Regions from separate parts of the Homo sapiens genome. Here all the other regions are reported to be linked to region 3. The links are microRNA targets in miRTarBase. Many come from high-throughput screens and were not tested one by one. Region 3 holds a microRNA gene; each other region holds the end of a gene's coding sequence.

Region 1 (3,257 bases), not on the chromosome of region 3:
TGCAGAAGTTTAACTTGTAACCTACCTCTCATTCCCAAAGTGTGTTTAATCATGCCGCCTTCTTTAAAATATATCTGGAAGCACCAATGAGTAAAGACAAAGGCCCCAAGCTAGATCTGTAGAGATAAGTACTAGACTCACATCTCAGTACTATCAAGGAAAACATGCTTAGGTTATCAGAATTGTGAAGGCCATAGTACAAAAAGTTAAGAGAACGGAACTCAGGATCTGAGAAAGATCAGCCATTCTCAGCATGTTGCCTTGGCTGCTTAACCTTACTAAACTTCCATTTCCTCACATGTAAAATGTACATCATAATAACTAGTCTACTGAGATAAGGGAAGAATACTTAGCACAGTGCTAGTACACTGTAAGTACTCAAATGTTACAGATCCAAGTATTTTGTAAGAAAATACCAGCAAAAGATAAAAGTTTTTTTATGGATCGTATTTGTATCAATCACCTACATGATCTAGAGCCCTCACATGGATAACATTTAAATGTTCAGTTTGCCTAATAGCCTTCAATGAAACACGGATTCTTCTACTTAAAAAAGGTAAGCCTGGAGAAAATAAAACTGATTACTATGCAAGAAAAAAATGTGCTCTGCTGTGCTCCTTGGTATTTTTAAGTGGTTTCCATTGTCTTAACACCTGTCTTAAAACGGGTATGTTGTTTGCACTGAACCCTCAAAAGTATTTATACCTATTAAGTTAAATTTCCCTTTTTAGAGTTAATGCTTCATTGCCTGTCGGCATATTATCACTATCTGTCTTTGAAAAATTTTCTTTTAAGTCTCAACTATTTCTTCATAAAGCTCTTGTTCAGAGAAACATTTTTTGATTTGTCCAATGGACTGAAATAAAAGGTTAGTAAACCAAAATACAGTTGATCCTCATTATTAGTAGAATTCCTTATCTGTGAATTTGCCTACTCACTAAAATTTGTAACTCCAAAATCAACATCCTTTTCTGGTCATTTGTGAGTATTTGCAGAGTGACAAAAAATTTAAACCACTTTATGTGCACAAGGCAATGCTCTACCTTGTTTAAGCTCTCACACCATAAACAGATATCCTTTTTGTGGTCTATTTAGTGCCAAGTTTCATGTTTGTGCTTTTTGTTGGTGATTTTGCTGTTTTAAGATGGTTCCTAAGAGTAGTAGTGAAGCATGCTACCTAGTGTTCCCAAATGCAAAGAAGGCCGTGATGTCCCAAGCATGAGTTAGTTATAGTGCTGTTGGCTGTTAATTGAAAGTTAATGAAATACTAAAGAATGTTTTCAAGCAGAAACAGGTCGATCAAGGTTATATACTGACTGGCAGACAATATTGTGACCAAAGGGTCACAGAATCTGTATTTCTCTTAGGAACTTGTTCCTTATTTGCTAATTCAGTGTTCATAGCCACCTTAAAGAACAGAATTACCACAAACAAGAACCAGCTGTACTTTCATGTCTCCTTGTCCCTGGAAATAATTTATCCTGCATAAAAGCCTTAGAAGCTAGTGTTTCATCATACACTAAATCATAACAGACTCCATCAGATTTTAAACGAGGGTATTGGATAGAAAACACAAAGAGCAGATATACCTTTACTTTATAAGGCAGATAAATATTACCTCCACTATTTTTTTAACCTCAAAAGTCCTTGTATCCTCCAATAATTAAGAAACTTATGATGACTTAAGGAAGTTTAGACGGTAGGTAGTATAATTTATCATCTTAGAGCTACACATAAGAAATACTCCTGTTGAGAAATACATACTAGTTTATACCAGATGTTTTATACAGGTCCTCTTAAGATCCTTATATATTTTATGTTAGACAAACAGTAAGTAATTTGCCTTTAAACATCATTTAAATTTATTAGTGTATAAATTCTAAAGAGTCCAAATTAAATATGTTGATATTGAGAACATTTCAGTTTTCAGTTTTGCTAACAGGGTTTAAGCTTAATCATAACAATTGCAGAAGTTTGATTATGTCAAGAAATAGCCAACTGAAGGAATAATTTATAAATGGTCATTACCTTTAAGGGGCTAGCTGAATACAATGTAAATACTCATGCCTGTAATCCCAGTACTTTGGGAGGCTGAGGCGGGAGGACTGCTTAAACCCAGGAGGTTGAGGCTGCAATGAACTGTGATTGTACCAGACCTGTACTCTGAAATCTTTATCATACTATTTTTAATGCATGAAATAAAAATGGTTTATATGTACATAGAATACACACACACACACACCCCTAGGTCAATTTCTTAGGTCTCAGTTGTGGTTAAATTCACTTTTAAATACAAGGTTCCAAGTATCCAAGTTGCCAGGCCAGTTGCCTGTACCTGGAACAGCCTTTCCACCGAATAAGAAGAGTCCCTACTTAAACAGCTTAAGCTAATTTCCATCATACTATTTATCACAGTCTAATTACCAGTTTATCAGTCTCCCATTAAAGTGGGGGCTCCCTGAGAGCAAGGACTGTCATCTTCACTTTGCCTTGAAAAGTAGACATAGGTCCCAAATTATCTGCTAAATGAGTAATGAACAATATTTCTATTCAGAAGGTGTGTGCTTGCCCATAATTAATACGCAAATATTCTAAACTATAATCTGATTTAAAATCCCCAAATTTAAACAAGAAAATTATACCAAGGCTTTGAGATTTAGCTTGTGCTAAATCATTTTTTAAAATTGTAGCTCTGAGGCATTTTATTATAAAAACTTAGTACTCATATACATAAACTAATACGAACTTAAAATTCATCATACATTTACTTCATTTTTTAGCTTGACCTTCTAGTAAATCTTTAGCTTCATTGATTTTGGCTGCTATATAAGGAGATCCTCCTATAGGAAGAAAGAAAAAAGAACAGTTACAATATGGATTCTCAATTTCTGCTTGGTAAAAAGCTACTCTTGTTTCAAGGACTCCAATGCTTATCTGAGGGAGATTTAGCAGAAACAGTGTTTTAATTTTTAAAAAATAACCCTGACACTGCAACTGGATGACCAAATATATGGTAATATATGTGACCAATGAGAAATGAAGTAATTTACGTGGGAGATATTTCTACAAAAATAACACCTTTTTAGAAAGCTTAAACTGATAGAAATAGGATTTCTATCATATATATTAGATATATATGTATATGCCTTTGAACTGGTGTTAGCCTATTCATGATTACAGGTCATAAATGAACATCAATTATACCATGTTATTTTAATACCATGATATTCTCAGAGGCTTCTGAGCTGTTTACTGGA
Region 2 (3,257 bases), not on the chromosome of region 3:
CCCAAAGCTGACTCATTCCTGCTTCCTTGCCAATCTCTTTCATCCTTCAGCTGAGGACGATGACATGAATGAGGACACAGTAGAGAGGATTGTTCGCTGCATCATCCAGAATGAAGGTGGGTCTAGCATAGCCCCTTGCTCCCTCTTCTCCAACCTTCTCTTGCCCTGACCTCCACCTCCACTGACTCCCTCTTTTCCTTCTTCCCTCAGCCAATGCTGAGGCCTTGAAGGAGATGCTGGGGGACAGTGAAGGAGAAGGGACAGTGCAGCTGTCCAGGTGAGCTGGAAACAAGGGCCAGCATGACTTAGCTTGCCTTGGAGAGTATCCTCTCCTCCAGCACAATCCTCTCCCAGCCTCCTTGCATGTATGGGGTTGGGGGAAGGGCAAAGCTGGCTAACTTATAGGAAGAAAGTTGTTTTGTAGAAATCGCGATTCCTTCAAACCATCTCTCTCATCTAGATATCATCAAGCCTAACATTCACCTCTAGTGCCACTCCTTTGGGTTAAGCAGTGTTCTTTTTAGCAAACAGCCCTGGGAGGAAGAACATATGGTCACTAACATCTTAATATTGAGTTTATTAGATAAAGACAAGAAAAAATGGGGCTTGGGGAAATTGGGGCTTCTGGGGTTTTAAGGAGCATGCTGAAAGAACGTAAGAAACAAAACATGAAGGGAAATGGAAATGTTACCCTCACTCCCCTCCTCCCTGCTGTCCAGTGTGGATGCCACCTCCAGCCTGCAGGACGGAGCCCCCTCCCATCATCACACAGTGCACCTGGGCTCTGCAGCCCCTTGCCTCCATTGCAGCCGCAGCAAGAGGCCTCCACTTGTCCGTCAGGGACGCTCCAAGGAAGGAAAAAGCCGCCCCCGGACAGGGGAGACCACTGTGTTCTCTGTGGGCAGGTGGGGCAGGTGCTCCAGGGAAAGGGGGGCTGAGGTAGGGGGCCCAGTGATCAGGCACCTGATCCCAAAAGTGGGCCTTGGCTCTTTCCTCCTGGACTGGGAGCTCCGGCAGAAGTCAGGCTACACAATGTGCCCCACAATCTGAGAAGGCCTCCCCTACCTTAGGCCAGAGGGAAGTAGCCACCAAACTCAGGATGTCCCTGGTCAGAGGGGAGGGCCAAGCAGCCTCTGAGTTGTGGTCCTAAACCCCAGTGTTCCCTCCCCTCCCAGGTTCCGGGTGACACACATTGAGAAGCGCTATGGACTGCACGAACACCGTGATGGCTCCCCCACAGACAGGAGCTGGGGCTCTGGTGGGGGACAGGACCCAGGGGGTGGTCAGGGGTCTGGGGGAGGGCAGCCCAAGGCAGGGATGCCTGCCATGGAGAGGCTGCCCCCTGAGAGGCCACAGCCCCAGGTCCTAGCCAGCCCCCCAGTACAGAATGGAGGACTCAGGGACAGCAGCCTAACCCCTCGTGCACTTGAAGGGAACCCCAGAGCTTCTGCAGAGCCAACACTGAGGGCCGGAGGGAGGGGCCCAAGCCCAGGGCTGCCCACTCAAGAGGCAAATGGGCAGCCAAGCAAACCAGACACTTCTGATCACCAGGTAGGAAAACACAGCCGGGACTGCACTGGGCTGGGCTCTTATTGCTCTCTACTCTGGGGGGCACTGATAGGACCTACTCCTGGTCTCTCATTGTTGACCCCTCCCCTTTCTCTCAGGTGTCTCTACCACAGGGAGCAGGGAGTATGTGAGGTGAGTCTGCCTGAGCCCTAAATGAGGTAATCTCATCTTCCCATCACCTACTTAAACTATTTAAGCCTTTCGGCTCCCTGAACCCCCCGAGTAAACTGCAGGCTTAGCCTTTGCTATAAATCCCTTGGTTTGGTGGTGGAGGTAGGGAAGGTCCTGGAGCCCCAGGGGAAAAGCTGGACACAGCTTGAACAGGAAGCAACAGTGTTATTCTTCCTCTTCTCCAAGTCTCCTTCATTGTGCTGATGGACTACCAGCTGGCAGGGCCAGGGGGTGGGTGGGCGTGAAAGCCCTCCCCTCCACTGGACAGCACTGCCCCCCAGCTGAGGGACCAGCTCTACTTCCACCTGGAGTTGCACAGTCTCAGGCTGGGGGCCTCAGGAGAGGTCACAGCCCCTCAGTCTCTTCTCCTTCCCCTGCCTGCAACAGGCTGCCTGCCCCGCCTTCCCCAACACCTCGCTCCATATGATAGAGCGTGGCAGCTGGGAGCAGGCCCCTGCCCGTGGTGGGCCCCTAAAGCAATAGCACCGTAGGCCCCCTGCCCTCTTAGCACAAGAGGCCCAGGCCCTGGCCTGGCCTTCGTGCCCTTTATTCATTGTCAATAAATCCGCTCAGACCATTACAGCTGCTTCGCATCCTGGCTCCAGCTCCTGATTCCCAAGGCCTGTTCCTCTCCCCAGCCCAACCCCAGTGACCCTGGCATCCAGAGTGGGGTGGGTCATGGAGCCAGGGTGGGGAAAGAGGTGGGCCAGAACTACTAGAGACCTTGATGGATGGTTTCCAGCCCCAGAGATTTCAGGCATTTCACCACCCTAGATAGGGTCATGACAGAAGAGAAGGTAGTTCCGGTCCTAGAGATGATAGAACAATGGGAAAAAAAGGAGTGGGTTCCAGCTCTAGAAATGGGAAGGGGCAAGTTTCCACCCTTGGAGGTGAGGGTGGAAATAAGGGCGATTCCAGCTTTTGGCTGTGTTGCTCTGGATCATTGATGGTGTGGTCTGACAGCTTGAAGATAGGGACAGCAGCATCACTGGGGGTCAAGGCTTCCCTGGCCTTCAGGTGAGGGGATCTGGGTGGCCAGGATCCGGGGCTTTAGCCGGCGGGGGAGGTGGTGGACGCATCTGTAGGGAACACACAGTTAGTGCTCCAGAGTTCTCCCTTAAGGGTATCCCTGTCTATTCCCTCAGCCCTGCAGACAAAACAGGACTGGTTGGAATAACCCCTCTACATACAATCTCCTCCAAGGCAAGGGCCCTTACCGGCCTGAGTCGAGGTGCCATCATGTCCAGGAACCCAGGGAAGTCCAGGGCTTTGTCTGGAAATAAGAACCACAAGTCAGTCTTCAGACTTTGTTTTGTTCAATGCTGTATCTCCAGCACTTAGGACAGTGGCATTCTATAAATATTTGTTAAATTAATGGTCACCATCCTAGACCATAAAATCCATCACTCTATCCACTGTCCTCAACATTTATTGGGCAACTGCTGTATAATCAGCTCTGCTCAAGGTACAAAACTAAGGGAGATAGGATGCATAGTGCTCCCACCCCCAATGGCTGT
Region 3 (3,257 bases):
AATCATGACTCTCACAAACATATGTCCCTGTGCATCTTACCCAAGAAGGAACCAACCCAGATATTCTTCCTAACGGATGCAGATGACGCAGACTTGGAGTGACAATCATATTTGATTCCTACTCACCCTTTTCAATGTTTTCATTTATTTTTTTAAATACAACAAACACAGATGAACCCACCACTGACCCAGACCAAAAATATTGATTAGTACATCCAAATACTTCTTATCCACTGAGGTCAAAGTCTTGTTTTATTTTATATAGTCCACAATTGTACACAAATGGATAAATCTTAATCTTTAGGTCATAAAACACTGTCTTTGTGGTCCATTCTTGACATTCTTTCATTTCGTCACTTTTGTACTCATCTAATTCATTTTTGACTATGCAGCCACTACACTTGAAGTCACCATTTAGCCCAAGACCAGTGACTATTCTGTATACCTGTTGATACACTTCCTACCCTCAGCCTCAACAGCCTAGAACCTGGCTTTTGTTTTGGAATAACCTCACAGAAGCAGAGACTAGAAAGGTAGTTACTAGGGGTCAGGAGTGAGAGGAATCTGGAGATCTTAGTGAGAGGATGCAAACTTAGGAGTAAGATGCAGTTAGGAGTAAGTTCTGGTAACCCAATGCAGAGTACGGTGACTATAGTTAACAATAATGTATTTCATGCTTGAAATTTGCTAAAAGAGTAGACCTTAAGTATTCTCACTGCACACATGGAAAAACGGAACTACATGAGGTGATGGGTATGTTAATTCGCTTGATTATGGTAATCATTTCACAATATATATGTATATCAAAATGTCACACTGTACAATTTAAATACAATACAAATACATACAATACTGATTTATCAATTATATATTTATAAAGCTGGGGAGTGAGGAACACATTGCCATCATTGGTACATGCTTGGCTGTCTCTGGTTTTATTTACGCATTCATTCATTTTTAACTGTTCAATCAACACCCACAAAGCCGGCTTTTATTTGTCTGCACTCACCTTCTCTGGGAGAGAAACCCCAGTGTGCCCATTCTATGGAACATAAAGCCGGTTAAAAAAAGAAAATAGCCTACGAGGCCTTTTTTGTTTGTTAATATCAGGTTACCAGACCTGGATTAGTCATAATCCTTTGCCCAGAACACATTCTCAGAATTGTTCCATTCGAGGCCTTTATTACCTTATTTCTTTATTCCTTGATTATTTTTAATAACAAAATTAATAGCCACGAACCACTCTGATTTCTTTTTTTAATGCCCCTCAGTTGTGAAGAATTAATCACCATCCCTGGTTTACAACCCACTCCCGTCCTTGCTGCTGGCATGTCTCTCTCTTCTTGTATTGATTGTTAAAACCACCCACGAGAATTACCACTGGTGGTCCCCACCTCCATCCCTCCCCCTCTCATGCCCCTGCCTCCCTCTACCTTAAACAATCACTCCCAAATCTCCTGGATACAATCCCTTTCCAGATATATATATATATAAATTTACAACATATATGTAATATATGTATTCTTAAATATTTTCCATGGGTCAGTGGCTTGCAGGAGTTTTCAGTGAAGGCTAAAGAGAAGGGTCGAGGGAGAGTGTGAAATACACAAGCTTGAGTTCAGAGTACACCCACTGCTGGGGGGATTGGTAAAAGCCCTCAAACCCAGATCACTGAGCCATCTGCACCTGCGCACACACCACGAGCCAGTGGGCCCAGTGGTTGCAGCACATATGCTCACACCTCAGTACCCACCTCCCAAATCCAGCCTCAATGCCAGACGAGCTGGGTGACATCAGCAAAGCAAACTAACGTCTCTGTGCCTGTTTCCCCATCAGCAAGATAGTTGCAGTGGGGGGTCCCCAAGCAAAGTTATGTTATTATTTTCAAGCCAATGGCAACCAGGTTAAAAAAAAATACAAAAAAACCCTCCATCCCACCTCTGAGCCCCCTCCCTCACCCAAATCTTGGCTCCCTCTGCAGCAGCGCCCGAGCTCTGGTGTTAGACAGACAGACAGACCAGGTTCCACCCCAGCAGGCACTCGTGAGCTGTGTAACTGCAGAGACGTGACCTGGCTTCTCTGTCTTGTGCCCCGACTTGTACGGTTTGTAGAATGAGGAATGCAGCGCCCTCGTGGGTCCAACCGGAGGGTGACCTGAACTATCGCCCATCCCTCAAGTAGCCCGCCTTGCACACCTGCGCACACCCCACCCTTTCCCCGTCCCATGACGCCCAGCCCACTGCTCAAACAGTCCCCAGTTTGATCAAAGAAATGAATTAGTTCAATGCTCAGATCAAGCCAAGGGTTTGGGACTCGGGCAGGGAATTGTTCGGGCATGTTCTTTTTTGGACATGGCATCAGAGCTTAAACAAATACACTGAAAAACAGAAATCCAACTAAGGGATGTGCTTTGGAAAATGAAAATTCATTTTGTGAAGTGGGACTGCCCTTGGGGAAGTCTATGCAGTGAGATTCTTGATGTTCAACTTGATTCCAAGAAACCAAAAGAGGCTTCACTATGGGCCTTACCAAAGATACACAGCCAGTTTCCTTCTTACCCCTCCCCCCAGCTTGTCCTGGGTGTGTACCACCTGCCACAACTGGCCTCAGAGCAACTCAGGGACCTGAAAATAATTCTATATATTATATAGAGTTATGGTGTAGGTGTATAACGTCATTTACACATCAATCTGTCCATTGGGGGACTGTCATGAGGGAGTCGTGGGAAGACCACCAGTGTGGGGACCTGCCCCTGCCTTCTTCATACTGTGAGGCCTTGGAGAAGGCCTGTCCCCTCCCTGAGCCTCAGGTGGCGATCGTCCCACCAGCCTTTCCTCCCTCCTAAGTGGTGTGAAAATGAAAAGCATAACATTTTAAGTGCAAGTTCCCTCCAAGCAGCAGGGATCATTAATATTGTACCTCCTGTACCCAGCACGTAGTGTTCACAGCATGCCTCAGCATACATTATCTCGTTTGATTCTCACAACAGTCCTGTGAATTAGACATAATAATCATAATTAGCCAATATTTATTGAATGCATACTCTGTACCAAGCACCACACTGCCTACTTTGCATACATTGACACTCCTCTGGGGTGGATACAATTCAATAGTATCTCATAAATTTTTCCCCAAAATTTCTGAGCATGCACTTTGTATTGTTGCTGGGTCTAAGTGCCAGGGATACAGTAGTGAGCAAAACGGACAGATCCCGGTTCCATGAGAATTAACATCCCTGTGGGTGGAGATAGGAACAG

Evidence for each region. Region 3 holds the annotated microRNA hsa-miR-370-5p (CAGGUCACGUCUCUGCAGUUAC, at 2,052-2,073, opposite strand). A microRNA usually pairs through its seed, bases 2 to 8, with sites in the 3' UTR of a target mRNA and lowers its output. Matches are read on the target gene's strand: a 7mer-m8 pairs with bases 2 to 8, a 7mer-A1 pairs with bases 2 to 7 and ends in A, and an 8mer does both.
Region 1: miRTarBase lists DNAJC19 as a target of hsa-miR-370-5p. Seed matches in the 3' UTR shown: 7mer-A1 at 2,246-2,252.
Region 2: miRTarBase lists FCHSD1 as a target of hsa-miR-370-5p. Seed matches in the 3' UTR shown: 7mer-m8 at 2,083-2,089.

The regions. Positions count from the first base shown.
Region 1 is chr3:180,981,871-180,985,127 of GRCh38, forward strand. It overlaps DNAJC19 (DnaJ heat shock protein family (Hsp40) member C19), which reads right to left. Exons shown (of 6, transcript NM_145261.4): 6 at 1,839-2,840. The coding sequence ends at 2,770. It overlaps FXR1 (FMR1 autosomal homolog 1), which reads left to right. Exons shown (of 17, transcript NM_005087.4): 17 at 1-883. Among named protein-coding and RNA genes, the nearest start is that of DNAJC19, 6.2 kb to the right of the region's middle.
Region 2 is chr5:141,638,745-141,642,001 of GRCh38, forward strand. It overlaps FCHSD1 (FCH and double SH3 domains 1), which reads right to left. Exons shown (of 20, transcript NM_033449.3): 19 at 2,958-3,013; 20 at 558-2,819. The coding sequence ends at 2,754. It overlaps RELL2 (RELT like 2), which reads left to right. Exons shown (of 7, transcript NM_173828.5): 2 at 51-116; 3 at 211-277; 4 at 720-905; 5 at 1,176-1,551; 6 at 1,668-1,701; 7 at 1,927-2,320. The coding sequence ends at 1,700. Among named protein-coding and RNA genes, the nearest start is that of RELL2, 3.4 kb to the left of the region's middle.
Region 3 is chr14:100,909,967-100,913,223 of GRCh38, reverse strand. MIR370 (microRNA 370) reads right to left here and starts at 2,085; the gene lies at 2,011-2,085. It overlaps MEG8 (maternally expressed 8, small nucleolar RNA host gene), which reads right to left. Exons shown (of 51, transcript NR_146000.1): 8 at 2,920-2,991.